3 separate regions of the Homo sapiens genome follow, and regions 2 and 3 are each linked to region 1. Evidence: fine-mapped expression QTL. A gene starts in region 1. Each other region holds a variant in brackets. All regions are shown on one strand. Distances are between the middles of the regions.

Region 1 (5,231 bases):
GTAACATTGTAAAACACTGCCATCAACTTTATTTTGTTGTTGTTATTGTTTGTTGTTTTTGATTTTGTTTTTGTTTCTGAGACAGTCTCTCTCTATCGCCCAGGCCACAGTGTGGTGGCACAATCTCCATTCACTGCAACCTCAACTTTCCAAGCAATCCTCTCATCTCAGCCTCCCGCAGAGCGAGGATTACAGGTGTGCACCACCATGCCCGGTTAATTTTTGTATTTTTTTGTAGTGACAGGGTTTCACCATGTTGCCCAGGTTGGTCTCAAATTCCTGAGCTCAGACAATCTGCCCATCTTGGCCTCCCAAGGTGCTGGGATTACAGGTGTGAGCCACTGTGCCTGGCCTGAAGTATTTAAATGCTAATTTTTGACTGAAGACATATATTTTCAAAATCATTAGAATTTCTCTACAAATTATATCTCACATTGAACCCTTGGGAGCAACTAAAATGTTCTGTCTCATGAAGGTATACACTTGAAAGTATCTGGAAACAAAAATGTTTAAAGATAACGTTTGGTATTCACCCCTGTGGTTAAAAACAATAAATAAAAAGATAATGCTGACTAAAATGACTAAATGGAATGTGAAATTGGTAAATGTTGCCTAAATAATGATTATTTTTATCATGTTGGAAAATCTGTGCTCCAGGTCTCACAGAAAGCACTGTAACTGCTAACAACAAATAAAACTAAGCTTGCTACATAAAATAATGTCTCCACTAACAAAGTTTCCATTAACTGCATCTAATCTATGTATTGCTGCAAAGGTTGTTACCAAAATGAATGATACTCAGTAACATTCAGAAAAACACTAAGACTAAATTCTGCTGAGTGTCCTAACAGTCATAGAAAACCATTGAGACCACCCTCAAATTAGGCATGTGTGTAGTAGAAGATGGTCCTATCCACGTACTAACCGTCAAAATTTTCCTCCACTTCACCCCGAAGGGATATCTTATACAGAAAATATGGAAACAAAAATATGTTGTTACAAGGTCTAAGCGTTTAGAAGGCACCCTAAGAACAGTTTCTCTCTTGAAAACAAGATTTAAACATCATTAAAAAAACAGTCAACATTCATTAAAACAGTACTCCTAACGCTAACATGGGGGTGGGGTGGTGAGAATGATGTCAGCATTCAGTAAAGTCGGAGACAATTTCTAACACAATAATGGCAATAACTGTTATAAATCCTGACGGCCCTTGCAACGCGGAACGTTGGCAACTTGAAAACATAACTGAATTATTAAATACTGCAGTATTCAAATGACCTGCAGCGAGTGAAAACTCAGCAAACACCCTTGTTCCTTCTGAACAATGACCTAAATAGTGAATCACTATAAAAAGAACAGATGACACATTCAATTCATCTGTTCAACCTCAAATGTGCAAATGTCTGACAGTCCCAGAGATAAGACACAATGAATTCAATAGGACAGTATGGTCATTTTAAGTCATCAGAATGTCTGCAAAAGGAGTAAGGAGAAACAGAATCAGACAGAGGCGGAAAGAGTGGGGGAGGGCTTGTTTAGGGAGACTGAAAAGGACGGGCGTTAAGCCTGTAAAGCAGAAAAAGGCTACCAAGAAGCCTAACTGGTAGAGGAGAAAAAGAAGTTCGGGGATGATATTGACCAAATCCTCGACACTGGCACAGGAGGCGGGGAGTCCGGCAAGACCAGCCTTTGTTGATTTCCCACTTTCCCCGATTTTTAAGCACAGGTCTGCTTCAAAGCTCTCCCGCTGCCCCTAACCAATTTTAAGAGGTGAGAAGCGGGGTGTAACTGGGTGATGGGTACCAAAGGGAGTTCATTTCCCCAAATATTTCCTCCACCCAGGATATAAACCACTCTGAGAGGTAGGATGGGTGAGACAGACAGACGCCGGGATCTCTCGGAAATCAATCCCAATGGAGAAACGCTGGGTGGGTGCGCGCGGTGGGGGAGGGGGCCGGCTCCAGTTCCAAGTGCGGCCACTTACGAAGACGCGCTGGGCACGAAGAAATCCACGGCGAAGCCGAAGTAACTTCCCTCGGGGCCAGAGTACTCGGCAGGACTGTCCACGTCTAGGTTGAAGGCGCGGCACAGAGGTAGCAGGAGTCCCGAGAGAAGAAGCGGGAGGCCGCGGGGACCGAGGCGCAGCCGTCGCCGCGGCGGAAAAGCCATCGCCGAAGTGCGCGCGGGACGCCAAGCCGGGAGCGGTAGCCACCTCCCCCCGCCCCAGCGAGGCGCCCAGTGCCCGCGGCCCGCCGCCTGCGCGCGCCCAAACTTGCCGGCCGCTCTCTTCTCGGCTAGCCCGGGACAGCTCCGGGGCAGGCAAGAGGGCTGAGCTTCGGAGCGACCGCCAGGGACGAGGGGCGCAGAGCGCGCGGGGCGGGGACAGCAGCGCAGACGGTCCTTTGCTTCCCTCCGGCTCCGCCGCTCCACGCAGCGTCTGAGGCTGGGGACTGCCGGGGTGAGCGCCGCACCTCAGGCCTGAGAGCCGCGGCGGCACTGGGAGGAGACCTGGAAGGAGGAGGAGCCGGCCCGGGAGGCTGCTGTGGAGCTGGAGGAGGAAGTGGGGGAGGAGAGGCGCCCTTCTACAGGGGAGAGCTCAGCGTACTTCCGTGAGTGCAGTCGCCGCCTGTCCCGAGACCTGGGCGTCTGTGCAGGGGCCCCCAGCTCCTGAGCCTGGGTCAGCGGCAGCGCTCCTGGACGAAGGCCTCAGGCTGAGCACCTGAGGAGGCGTGGGGGCGGGGGCGGGGAGATACGGTCCAGCGTCCCAATCTACCCGCGTCCACGGGAGTAGCAAGGGCACCCACGTTCCCTTGTCCCGCCGGGAACTTCCGTGCGACTGTTGTTTAAAAATGAGGAAAGCTTTTTATCAGTTTCTCGTGTTTCTGCTGCTTAGCCTGGCAGGCTCTCACGAACGAAACCCTGTTAATTAATGGTCGTTAATTACACTCCATTCCACAAACACTGAACTTAATTACGGATTTCCAGAAAGCCAGCATAGCCTCTTGCAAGTGAGGTATGTAAAGCTTAACTTAGTAGTCAAAGAAAGGATTCGCAGGGCAAAGAATTGGCAGTGATCGTTTTAAATCAAGTCAGAATAATCGAAGCCTTATTCCCAGTTTGTTAGCTGCGGTTGTATGATTTAGAAACACTGATTTGTTGATTTAGGATGTTTGGATAGACATAATTTCAGAGCTGGAAGAAGGACCGCACACCGGTGAAATAAGGCCCCGCGTGCTTGTTTGCCACTGGTGTGTTTCATCAAGCCTTGACAACACTGGACTGAGAGAGAGGGCCTTGAGGACAGGAACCTTGACCTTTTTCTTAGTGTTCTTATTTCTAGCACCTTGCCAAGCAGATAGTAGTCGATCAATAAAATGTCCAATCAGTGAATGAATAGCAGACGAAATGAGCAAAGTGCCCAGAGAAGTGACTCTTCCATATTTCAAGTGTTTCATGTGCTACAGAATCTGTTGAACAAGGTGAAGTTTAAGTGCATTGTGTGGACTTACAACTTACAAGTAAGTACTGGAACAGTAATTTCTGTTTTCCCAAAGTAACTATTAAAACTCAATCATAATATACATTAATAACTATCAAATAATCCTGTGAAAGGATATGTATATAAATGAAAGTGAAATGCCTAATTCGAATTTGTAATATTTATTGGACCAGGTCCAGGTGCTCATGCTGGCAATCTCAGCACTTTGGGAGACTGAGGCAGGAGGATTGCTTGAGACCGGGAGTTCCAGGGGAACATAGGGAGACCTCATCTCTACAAAAATTTAAAAATTAGCTGGGAGTGTGGTGCATGCCTGTAGTCCCAGCTATGCCGGAGGCTAAGGCAGGTAGATAGATCGCTTAGGCTCAGGAGTTCCAGGTTATGATAAGTCATGAGCCTGCCACTGCACTCCAGCCTGAGTGACAGAACAAGACCCTGTGTTTAAAAAAAAAAAAGGCCGGGCGAGGTGGCTCATGCCTGTAGTCCTAGCACTTTGGGAGGCTGAGGCCGGCAAATTGCCTGAGCTCGGGAGTTCGAGACCAGCCTGGGCAACACAGTGAAATCCCGTCTCTACTAAAATACAAAAAATTAGCCGGGCGTGGCGGCATGCGCCTGCAGTCCCAGCTACTCAGGAGGCTGAGGCAGGAGAATTGCTTGAACCCGGAAGGCGGAGGCTGCAGTAAGCTGAGATGGTGCCACTGCACTCCAGCCTGGGCCACAGAGTGAGACTCCATCTCAAAAAAAAAATGCATTAAATATTTCCATTTTTAAATTTGACTAAAAGATATGCAGCAAAACCTTTGGCATGTTTTACAAGGCATGGTCTAGCATCTGCCTGAAAGAAATTACTGATTGAGAGAAGAAATCCTACACAAATCCTTACACATAAATGCAAATACAGCTTATTTCTCACCTTCTTTCCTAATACACCAAAGAGGCTATTGATATGTATGCATAAACCCAAAGGGTCTTTTATATCTTAAAAACATGACAACCAGTCTACCTGGAAATCCATCCAGGTAAGGAAGACAGAAGAGTTTAAACTCTGGCTAGATCCAGTAAGTCTCCCACTCCTCAACTTCTGATCGCAGGACAGGGGTCCGACAGACCAAGGTGGAGTGAAGAAATGTGAGAGGACCAGGGAAAAGAAGAAGCCCACGAAATGACAACACATGTACACCCACCAAAACTTGGGTGAACAACACACCCCCAAATAGGGCTACAACTTACTGAAAGCACTTACTGTTGAGCCATTCTTTATGAGTTTATTTTGAATGAGCAGTCTTGAAAATCAAGGAATTTGTTTTTTTTAAAAAAGCAAATAGTCCAGGCACTGTGGCTCATGCCTGTAATCCCAGCATTTTGGGAGGCCGAGGTGGGTGGATCACCTGAGGTCAGGAGTTCAAGACCAGCCTGGCCAACACAGTGAAACCCCGTCTCTACTAAAAATACAAAAATTGGCCGGGCGCAGTGGCTCACTCACACCTGTAATCCCAGCACTTTGGGAGTCCAAAGTGGGTGGATCACGATGTCAGGAGTTCAAGACCAGCCTGGCCAAGATGGTGAAAGCCTATCTCTACTAAAAATACAAAAATTAGCTGGGTGCAGTGGCAGGCACCTGTAATCCCAGCTACTTGGGAGGCTGAGGCAGGAGAATCACTTGAACCTGGGAAGCAGAGGTTTCAGTGAGCCAAGATCGTGCCACTGCACTTCAGCCTGGATGACAGAATG
Region 2 (5,231 bases), 30 kb after region 1:
GGGGTTTGTCACTGGTGCCTTGTTTAGTTTGTTTGGTGAGGTCATGTTTTCCTGTATGGTCTTGATGCTCGTGGATGTTCTTCAGTGTGTGAGCATTGAAGAGTTAGGTATTTACTCTAATCTTCGCAGTCTGGGCTTATTTGCTCCTGTCTTTCTTGTGAAGGCTTTTGAAGTATTCACAGAGAATTGAATGTTGTAACGTAAGTCTTTAGTCACTGCAGCCGTATGTGCATTAGGACACACCCCAAAGCTAGTAACACCCTGACTCTTGTAAGCTTGCAAAAATATTGCCTTAGTGGTCTTGGGTAAAACCCATGAAAATTCTCTTAATTACCAGGCAGAGACCCTTGTTCACTTCCCTTACTTTCCCCTAAATAAACAGTCTCTCTGGGCTGAACTTCCTGGAGTCGGGGGAGGGGTAACACAATCATTCCTGTGGCCATCACTGCTGTGTCTGTGCTGGGTCATACCTGAAGCCAGCACAGTACTGGGTCTCGCCCAAGGGCTGTGGTAACTATTGCCTGGCTACCACTGATGTTTATTCAAGGCCCTAGGGGTCTTTAATCTGCACATGTCACAATTCAGTTATCTTTTTTCAAAATCTAAGTTTCCACACACAGCACTGAGATAATTCAGTTTTAATAATGACCTCTTTGAGTGCTGTATCATATTTGGAGGAGAGGAGACACAATCTGCCCTGACTAGGAAACACTTAGAGATACAGCACACTCATTTGATCACATCTTACTACCCGGCATCAACCACATAATTCCCACATTTTATTATTCTATGTGTTCAGTAACATTTTGAATACATTATGGAAGACCCATAAGGGAACATAATGAAAAGTGTGGGAAGAACAACATGTAGAATTAAATGCATGGAGATTCTGTGAACGAAGAGATAAGTACCTGTAAAATAATGCTAATCTGTGAGAAGGGCAAAACAACAAATTTGTCATTAATAACAACCTTTGTGGTTCCTTGCACTGGAAACTATATTATTTGAAAATGATATAGTTACTAAATGTCCAATACAGCAAACCTCATAAAAATGTTTGAAATTAAAAATCTAGCTCCATGACATGAATTTGGTCCAAAGTAATGGTGTTTCTGTGATGTGGTTATTGACAATACCATAGAGCAATAAACCTGACCAAATGCTTTCTCATTCTCCATCATTGTTTGGTTTGCACTAATCATCTATAAATTGCCTGTTTGTCAGAAATGGTAGAATAGTTAGGGAGGAAAAGAAGAGAGCTAACTGGAGCAGGATCCCCATTTTTTAAAGCAGTAAATACCTTCAGTTCTCTTCTTAAACATCACCTCCATGTCTCAATGTTCCATCTCCAACCCAGACTCCTACTCCAGTCATGCAAATAACCATACAAAACAAATGACAAATAGATCAGAAGTTTAATTGAAAAACAAGACATGTGTCATTCATTGTCACAGCCACTGATGGATCTGTTCACTTAATAATTCACAAAAAATCTTTCTGTTGACCTTACCAATTTCAACACGTTTTTGGTTATAACTTGTTAATTTCCCATAGAAAAGCAAGGATTTTATTTTACCTCAACATGTGATTTTTAGTGATATGCTCCCTCCAAAGAGACTTCACCACATCAAAAGGGTGACGTTTTCCTATGGAATTCATTAGTTCAGGTTTTATTTTATTATTTATTTATTTATTTATTTATTTATTTATTTATTTTTATTTTTTGAGACAGGGTCTCACTCTGTTGCCCAGGCTGGAGTGCAGTGGTACAAATACAGCTCACTGCAGCTTCGACCTCCTGGCTCAAGCATTCCTCCCACCTCAGCCTCTGGAGTAGCTGGGACCACAGGTATGTGCCACCAAGCCTGGTTAATTTTTTTAAAGTTTTGTAGAGATGAGATCCATGTTGCCCAGACTGGTCTTGAAATCCTGGGCTCGAGTAGTCTCCCACCTCAGCCTCCCAAAGTGGTGGGATTACAGGCGTGAGCCACTACCCCCAGCCTAGATTTTGATCAGTAGGAAGCTAGTGTGTCTTGATGTTCAGAAAATACAGCATGTGACTGACAAAGCTGAGTTTAGAGCTCTAGTTCTGTCACTTTCTAGTTGAATGACCTCAAGCAAGTTACTCAACCTTTCAGTGATTATGGTTTTCTTTTT[C/T]GGTTGTTCTATCTGGTCCTTTTTAAAATCCACCTGCTCTTTTTTCATTGTAATTATGTTCCATATGTTTCTCTTCCTTCATTCATGTGTTTACATATTTTCAAAATATTTATTTAATAACTTATTTCATATTATTCTGTTTTCTACATTCTTGGATGTACTAATTTCCCCCAGTTACAGTATCTGCTGGCTCTTGCTTATGACACATTATTTCCTTGTGTGTCTTAGAATTCATCAGGGTTTTGCTTCTCTTAGAAGAAATTCTTGTTGCCTTATTTATAGAAGTGATTTTCAGAATGCTCTTTCATTTGTTTCTACCAGGCATCCCTGATAATCACTGCTCCACAACTCAATAGTTCAGGCAGAGATGTTTCCTTGCTCCCTTCTGGGGACCTATATGCAGACTTTTTCTAGTTCTCCTTTCACTGATGGTGGGGACCTTTGTGAGACTTGGTTTATATACAGGTCTCAGTTTCAAATCTTTAACTTGTCTCTTGTTTCTTTTGAGTTTTAAAGTCCAAATCCCTAAATGTTAAGGCCTATTTCTTCTTAATGCCCAGAAGTTTCCCATTCCTTTTTGCAAGCTCACCTTGGTATTTACAATATAATTTATTTTATCTTGTTTAACAGTTCTAAGTAATGGTAGGAAGGGTTCTTTATTAGTTTAGGCCACCACACCCCCAGAACCATTTTCTTATCTCTGCATATATGAAATACAGAATATGATGGCATGTACCACACATAGTTTTGGTAAGGTTAAATAAGATAGAGATTTACATGCTTAGGGAAATGTCAAGTACATAATTAACTGCATAATAAATGTCAGTCTTTATTGTCTGGATGCTATCACTGGTATTGTTAGGGTTCTCTTGGAACTCATCTCTGACACAGCTCTTAATATTTTATTAGATCAACAATTTGTTGGGTCTGCTACGACTCACCAAATTAACTTGGCAATGATCTCTCTACTAGATGTAACAGGAATTCTGGTTGTCATGGTTGGCTCTTAGCAAACTGGAGAGACCTGGAGGGTTAGGATCTACCAGTATGCCTCACCTTGTAAAGGTGACAAATTGAGAATAAGCAAAACTAATCACTAAGAGATGGAGGAGAGTTAGTAAAAAACTAGTAAGATTCATTGCTAATTAGGGCCAGTTTTTAGTTTCCAGAATAAAGGGACAGATATCAGAAGCTAAAGTTGGATACTGCAAACTTTGTCTAATGAAGGCCAGTTATCCAAAGCCCAGAATCAAAGCTGAGTCATACTTAGGGAGTAGAGGAAGAAGCTTTCAAAGTATGAAGTATAAATGATGGCCTAATAGGACACGCAGCTTAAGTACTAAAGGAATTTCATCTGGAAACAAGGCAAAGTAGAGTGTGAAATGGGGATAGCCCCTGAGAAGTAGTTTTGAACAAGTAGGAAAAGTGGGATATGGACTTCCAAAATATGACAACAGTGAAAGCTCCCTGCAAAGGATGATGCCTAGAGTTAGATACCTGGAAGTCCAGGAACTTCAGGTACCTAAGACACCCAAGCAAAATTTATCCAAGTAAATAAAACACACCACATGAATTCTTAGGGAGAATACCTGATGTTATATAGGAATATCTCATCTTATTGGGCTTCATTTATTGCACTTCACATATATTGCATTTTTTACAAATTTAAGGTTTGTGGCAACCCTGCATCCAGCAAGTCTATCAGTGCTACTTTTCCAACAGCATTTGTTCATTTTGCAATATTCTTGCAAAATTTCAAACCTTTCCATTATTATTATATCAGTTATGATGATCTGTGATCAGTGATCTTTGATGCTACTATCATGATTGTTTAGAGGCACTAAGAACCCTGCCCATATAAGTGATCTTTGATGGTACTATCATAAATGTTTAGAGGGACTAAGAACCCTGACCATATAACACTGTGTGTGTTCTGACTACTCCACCAACTGGCCATTTCCCCACCTCTTTCCCTCTGCTAGGGCCTCCCTATTTCCTGAGACACAACAATATTGAAATCAGGCCAATTAATAACCCTACAGTGGCCTTCAAGCGTTCAAGTGAAAGGTAGAGTCCCATGTCTTTCACTTTAAATCAAAAGGTAGACATGATTAAGCTTAGTGAGGGAGGCATGACAAAAGCTGAGACAGGCCGAAAACTAGGACTCTTGCTGAACAGTTAGCCAAGTTGTGAATGCAAAGGAAACGTTATTGGAGAAAATAAGAAGTGCTACTCCAGTGAACACATAAATGATAAAGTGAAACAGCCTTATTGCTGATATTGAGAAAGTTTTCATCATCTGGATGGAAGACCAAACAGCCATACTATTTCCTTAAACCAAGTCTAATACAGAAGAAGGTACCAACTCTCTTCAATTATATGAAGGCTGAGAGAAGTGAGGAAACTGCAGAAGAAAATTTGAAGCTAGCACAGGTTGGTTCATGAGGTTTAAGGAAAGAAGCCATCTCCATAACATAAAGTGCAAGGTGAAGCAACGAGTGCTGATGTAGAAGCTATGGCAAGTTATCCAGAAGATCTAGCTAAGATGATTGAGGAAGGTGGCCACACTAAACAACAGATTTTCCATGTAGAAGAAACAGCCTTATATTGGAAGAAGATGCCATCTGGGACTTATTATGTCATCTAGGACTTATTATAGCTATTATCTAAAGAGAAGAAATTAATTACTGGCTTCAAAGAACTGGCTGACTGTCTTGTAGGTGTGATTGCAGCTAGTGACTTCAAGTTGAAGCTAATGCTCATTTACTATATCAAAAATCCCAAGGCCCATAAAAATTATGTTAAATCTACTCTGCCTGTGTTCTGTAAATGGAAGAACAAAGCCTGGATGACAGCACATCTGTTTATGGCATGGTTTACCGAATATTTAAAGCCTATTGTTAACACATACTGCTCAGAAAGGGTATCTTTCAAAAGATTACTGCTCAGTGACAATGCGATCAGTTATCCAAGGGCTCTGATGGAGATGTACAAGGAGATGAATGTTATTTTCATGCCTGCTGACACAACATACATTCTGTAACCCATGGATCAAGGAGTAATTTTTACTTTCA
Region 3 (5,231 bases), 79 kb before region 1:
AGGGAAAGGAGCCTGGGTTAGGTTGTGTTAGTGATGAAACTGGTGAGAAGGGGCCAGATTCTAGGTATTTTGAAAGAAAATACTGATGCAATTTGCTGAAATACAAGACGTGAGATTTGAGAGAAAGAGAGGAGTCAAGCATGAGGTCCAGGTGTTAGAGAATGAAGTTGGTATTTACTAAAATCAACTAAGAACTTTATGGAAAGAGCAGACTTGGGAAAACCCAAGGGTATATATTTAGAATTGTTTGAGATTCCTATTAGATATTTAAAAGCAGTTTCTAGTAGGCAGTTGGATATTGGAATCTGAAGTTCAATGCAGAAGATCAGACTGGAAATATAAATCAAAGCATCTACACCACATGGTATTTACAGCCATGAGAGTCAACAGAAGGAAGTGATTAAGTGAACCAAAGCCACTAGGCAATTGAATGGTTGAGGACTAACAAGAACCACAGAATTTGGTGATGTAAAAGTAACTAGTGATCACTATTGAACATAAACAGTGCTGGGCATGGTGGTTCATGCCTGTCATCCCAGCACTTTAGGAGGCTGAGGTGGGCAGATCGCTTGAGCTCAGGAATTTGAGACCAGCCTGGGCAACATGGTGAAACCTCATCTCAACAAAAAATACAAAACTTAGCTGGGCATGGGGGAGAGCGCCTATAGTCCTAGCTACTTGGGGGACTGATAGGGGAGGATTGCTTGAGCCTGGGAGGTCAAGGCCTCAGTGAGCTGTGTTTGTGTCATTGCACTCCAGCCTGGGTGACAAAGTGAGGCTCTGTGTCAAAAAACAAACAAACAAACAAACAAAAAACACTATACCAGGTTCTCTACTAGAGATCTGGAGATTTGTTAATTAAAAGAAAAAAGAAAAACAATTGCCTTTAAAAACATTATAGCCATTATATAGGCTAACTCAACAAAGGTTAATCAAGTGCTAATTATTATTCCAATGTATTTTTGTTGGGACCTTCTGGATTTTTTAGTATCGTACTAAAGCCTCAGAGATTAGGAGGAGGCCCAGAAAGAGGACAGTTAAAGAACTAGAGTAGGAGAATCAAAGTTGGGACATAAACTAGTTTTATTAGCCATCTACAAAAATAGCTCATTTGAAGAAAATATGGCATTAATCTGACTAGGAAAAAGGAAAGTGAGAGGAATGCATGGTATAAAAATAAATGTAGTTGTTCAAGCACAGCTGTTGTTATTTTTGAAATGTTCTTTGGCGTCAGTTCTATAGTCACATATTTTTAAATGTCTATGGTGCACATATTTGAAATGGCACTTACCAAAGTGTGAATATCTCCTTCACTGAGGGCAAGATCCCGCTTAGTGATGAGATGGTCCCGCTCACCTTGCCCGGCAACCGTGTCATTCTTTTCAGTTGTTTGCAAAGATGAGATCTAATGCAATCACATTAATAAAATGGTGGTAAATGATAATGAAAAACATTTTACATCAGCATTTTGATATAAACTCTTAGATATGATTAAAAAATAGTGAATGAAAATTTAGTATGACAGAATATTTACCACTCAGTATATAGTGAGCAGTAAGGACAGAAAATAAAGATTAGAGTCTTTAATATGTACCAAAAAAGTTAGCTCTCCCTAACCATTATTTTCAGCCCTTGCTTAGCTAGAGTGGAAACTGATGAAACATACAGAAATGGCCTGAAATTCCACAGTACATTTGTGATGTCAATCATGGGTATATCTTTTATTTTGTTTCTTCACCTTTCCTTAGATCATATTGTGTAATAGTTTCTAGTGCAAATCTATGATGGAGATGACTATATCCAAAAGTCAAGATAATCATGAGTAAAATGGTATAGCTTATCCCAAAGGTAGAAATTTTAACAACAAAACACCCTTGATGTGATATTATGCCCTGAAGAAACAACAACGTGATGGAGCCAAGGTCAAACTGAGTCACTGAAGGACACATCTCATGAGGCTCAGTAAGCACTCTATGAAGATGTGGTTCACTAGACATCACAGAATCAATTCTTACCCATTATACAAATGAACTTATCCTAAGTGTACTGCTTATGAACTAAACCATTTTTTGCAGAGTGGGTTTTATATTA[A/G]AATAGTTGTTTTATTTTATGAATTTCTTTTACAGGTTTAGAAAGAAGGCAATGAAATATCATTGTAATGAAGAGCTGCTATTAAGCATATTACCTTAATTCTCAAAGGGTTGATCTCCATATCTGAAGTGCAGTTCATTGGTCCATCAATATCATAATGAAGGATATACAACAGAGTGTTATTATTATATTTGTAAGGCCACTGAAGATGGAGCATTGCCTTGCTGAATGAACTTGGACCATTGTTTCTCAGCTAAGGAGAAAAAAGAAAATGTATCTACACCTTGGGCAAAAATCTGTTCCATAATCCTTCCCCTACATCAACTTTAGAAATCATGTTAGCAATAGGTTTTAAATAACAGCAATTTCCACAGTTAACCTCTAATTACAATGTGACCATTTTTATGCAAAAATGATCAAACTCAACATTTGTCTCTAACACAGAGTAATATGTGTCAGGATAAAAATATAAACAAGGTTGGGCACAGTGGCTCATGCCTGTAATCCCAGCACTTTGGGAGGCCGAGGCGGGCGGATCTCTTGAGGTCAGGAGTTCATGTCCAGCCTGGCCAACGTGGTGAAACCTGTCGGTGAAACCCTGTCCCTACTAAAAATACAAAAATTAGCCGGGCATGGTGGTGCACACGTGTAATCCCAGCTACTCAGCAAGCTGAGGCAGGAGAATCGCTTGAACCCGGGAGGTGGAGTTTGCAGTGAGCTGAGATCGCGCCACTGCACTCCAGCCTGGGCGACAGAGCAAGACTTCACCTCAAAAAAAAAAAAAAAAAAAAAAAAAAATATATATATATATATATATATATATATATATGTATGTATGTATAAACAAAAGGCAAAATATTTAAAAGTTATTAATGAAGGATGACAAAGAAAATTTCTTCCTATAGAAATAGTTTTGATTATTTGCCATAGGTATTTTCAATTTTTAGCCAGAACTACAAAATGCCCATGAGAAAGTACCAATGACATTTCTTTATTCAAGTAGAACTAATTTATTTTAAACAACAAATTATATAAACTGCTTTATTTAAACAAGTCTATTTGTCAAATAAAAATGAATTTATGTATAGGGAAAATATTCAAAGAAATCTCTGACACATACTTAACCAATGTAGAGTTTACATAAAAATTACATAGAATTTTTTTTTTAAAGTAGCTTAGTTGTTCCTCTCTTCGTTGGCTTGCTCACGAGGTTTGAGTAAAATCTAACAACTGCAAACCTCATAGATGTGCTGAACAACTGGCCCAACATCTTCTTCAGTCTCAGGGTTCTCCTTGTGCTCCCAGTTTGGAATCGGAAGAAAGACATGATCAGGACTCGAGACTCTAAACAATGACCAAAGAAAACCTACCATGAATATCAAAATGATATAGTCAGTTCATTTTCAAAAGTACCCCATATTCATTACTCAAATAAATAAAATTAGATTTAATTTTAAAAAATACTTTAAAAGAAAACTAATGAACACACACATGCACAAAAACTGCTCTTATGAAATGTACACGTAACAGGTGAATTGACAATTTGTGTAAAAGTTCAACAAAATTATTTTGTGCATGTTGTTGCCATGTCTTGTTCCTTTTGAGGATCACCCAGTATTGGGGGTTTGGAACATACCTAGGATTTTATTTCTACAGAAGCTAATGCCCTAGTAAAACCACCACTAAACATGCAGGGTCTATTGTCCAGAAAAGGCTAAGGCCTGACAGTTACCTTTAAAAAGCAATCATGAGAATGAGATACTCAACTAAGTATTCATACTGACCCTCTTATCTCAACTGCAGCTAAAACAGCAAGATCAACTTTGTGAGATACAACTGGGCTTACTTTGTCAAATAGATTTGAGCTGAAAAAGAAAAAAAAAAACTTAAAAATGAATTATGCATAACAACCAAGAACATACAGAGGCAAACCCAGTGAAACTAAAAATTAACAAACGAAACAAGTGTAAAGCTTATACCTCAAAATAGTTATTTTCATTAACACTTAATTCCAAGAAGATGAACATTTTCTTTCTGGATTTTAAATTTTGTTTTACAAACTCAAATCTGACAATAAAATTATTCTTATAATGTAAATATTGATTTTAAAATGCTATAGTCAAGCAATAAAATTTAATCTGCTACTTTATATTTAAAGTATATTACATAGTATATTTACAACAAATAATATTTATTTGATAGTTATAAGTGAATATAAGTTGTTTTCATACCTTTGGATTTGTAAGTCAAATTTCACAGAAGTATCCATCTCTGACTGCTGGTGCACACTGAAACGAAGACCAGCTAAGAGCTAAAGGAGAGAGGAAAAGATAGTAATGCTAGTCAATGTCTAATTAGCAAAATTTCAAATCCAATGTCTAAATAAAAAATAATGTTCTAAAATGGGGTTTTTCTGAGCTTACAATAAAACTGAACAAAGATAACTAAATCTTATTTTCTATCAAACCTATTTTACTTAATATACCTGGACCAATCCATAAGAGAGCCTATTTAACAACAATTATTAATCATAATTATACCTCCTTATAATACTAACCATCTTTCTAAAAAGTGCAAAAGTAAATGTTTGTTGATCCAGTGAAAGTCTAGCAACTGGGTACAATAATTTGATAACACGAAGCTAACCACCAAAGTATGTGCTGTGTTCATAGGCCAGGAAAGAAGAAATGGATGGTTTACTAGAGTAAGGGAACATGGCTAAAGAAGGCATGAGTAGGGCCACAACCAGAATTTCTCCACACACCTCTCATAACACTCCCAACACCAAATATCCTAATTCCTGCAGGCAGAAAATTGGTAGATTTTAAATAAAACAATTGAACCACCAGGTACAAAAAAGAAGGCTTCTTGGGGATCACACAAATGACATATAAAAACAGTACTTCCTGGGTTCTGCCTCCCACTCCACAAAACCTGGAGCTGGCTACTTGTAATAAGCAGAAACTATATAATAACCAGAAAGTTAGAGAGAATGAGAATATGAGAAAATAAAAGGCATGCTCATTGTTAATAAAACATTGAATACACGTGAAAAACTGAACTTAGGGTAATTTGTTCAAGTTCTCATCCCTAAGATACCATACATCTAGAAATACTAATGACTTGTAATAGAAAACATA

What was found. PIP is the estimated chance that this variant, and not a neighbour inherited with it, causes the effect.
Region 2: its variant is the best candidate, but not a certain one, in a credible set for the expression of ITGAV in anterior cingulate cortex (GTEx, PIP 0.68).
Region 3: its variant is the best candidate, but not a certain one, in a credible set for the expression of ITGAV in spleen (GTEx, PIP 0.68).

What each region holds. Positions count from the first base shown.
Region 1 is chr2:186,587,278-186,592,508 of GRCh38, reverse strand. ITGAV (integrin subunit alpha V) reads right to left here and starts at 2,453. Exons shown (of 30, transcript NM_002210.5): 1 at 1,986-2,453. The coding sequence starts at 2,170. It overlaps LOC124906105 (a long non-coding RNA gene), which reads left to right and starts at 2,613. Exons shown (of 2, transcript XR_007087465.1): 1 at 2,613-3,519. RefSeq lists an enhancer at 1,971-2,030 and a silencer at 2,161-2,390.
Region 2 is chr2:186,556,911-186,562,141 of GRCh38, reverse strand. No RefSeq gene overlaps it. Among named protein-coding and RNA genes, the nearest start is that of ITGAV, 31 kb to the left of the region's middle. RefSeq lists a silencer at 2,112-2,161. The variant C/T (reference allele first, on the strand shown) is at 2,158.
Region 3 is chr2:186,665,875-186,671,105 of GRCh38, reverse strand. ITGAV (integrin subunit alpha V) reads right to left here. Exons shown (of 30, transcript NM_002210.5): 22 at 4,323-4,402; 23 at 3,876-3,956; 24 at 3,330-3,435; 25 at 2,186-2,344; 26 at 1,292-1,405. Among named protein-coding and RNA genes, the nearest start is that of FAM171B, 26 kb to the left of the region's middle. The variant A/G (reference allele first, on the strand shown) is at 2,092.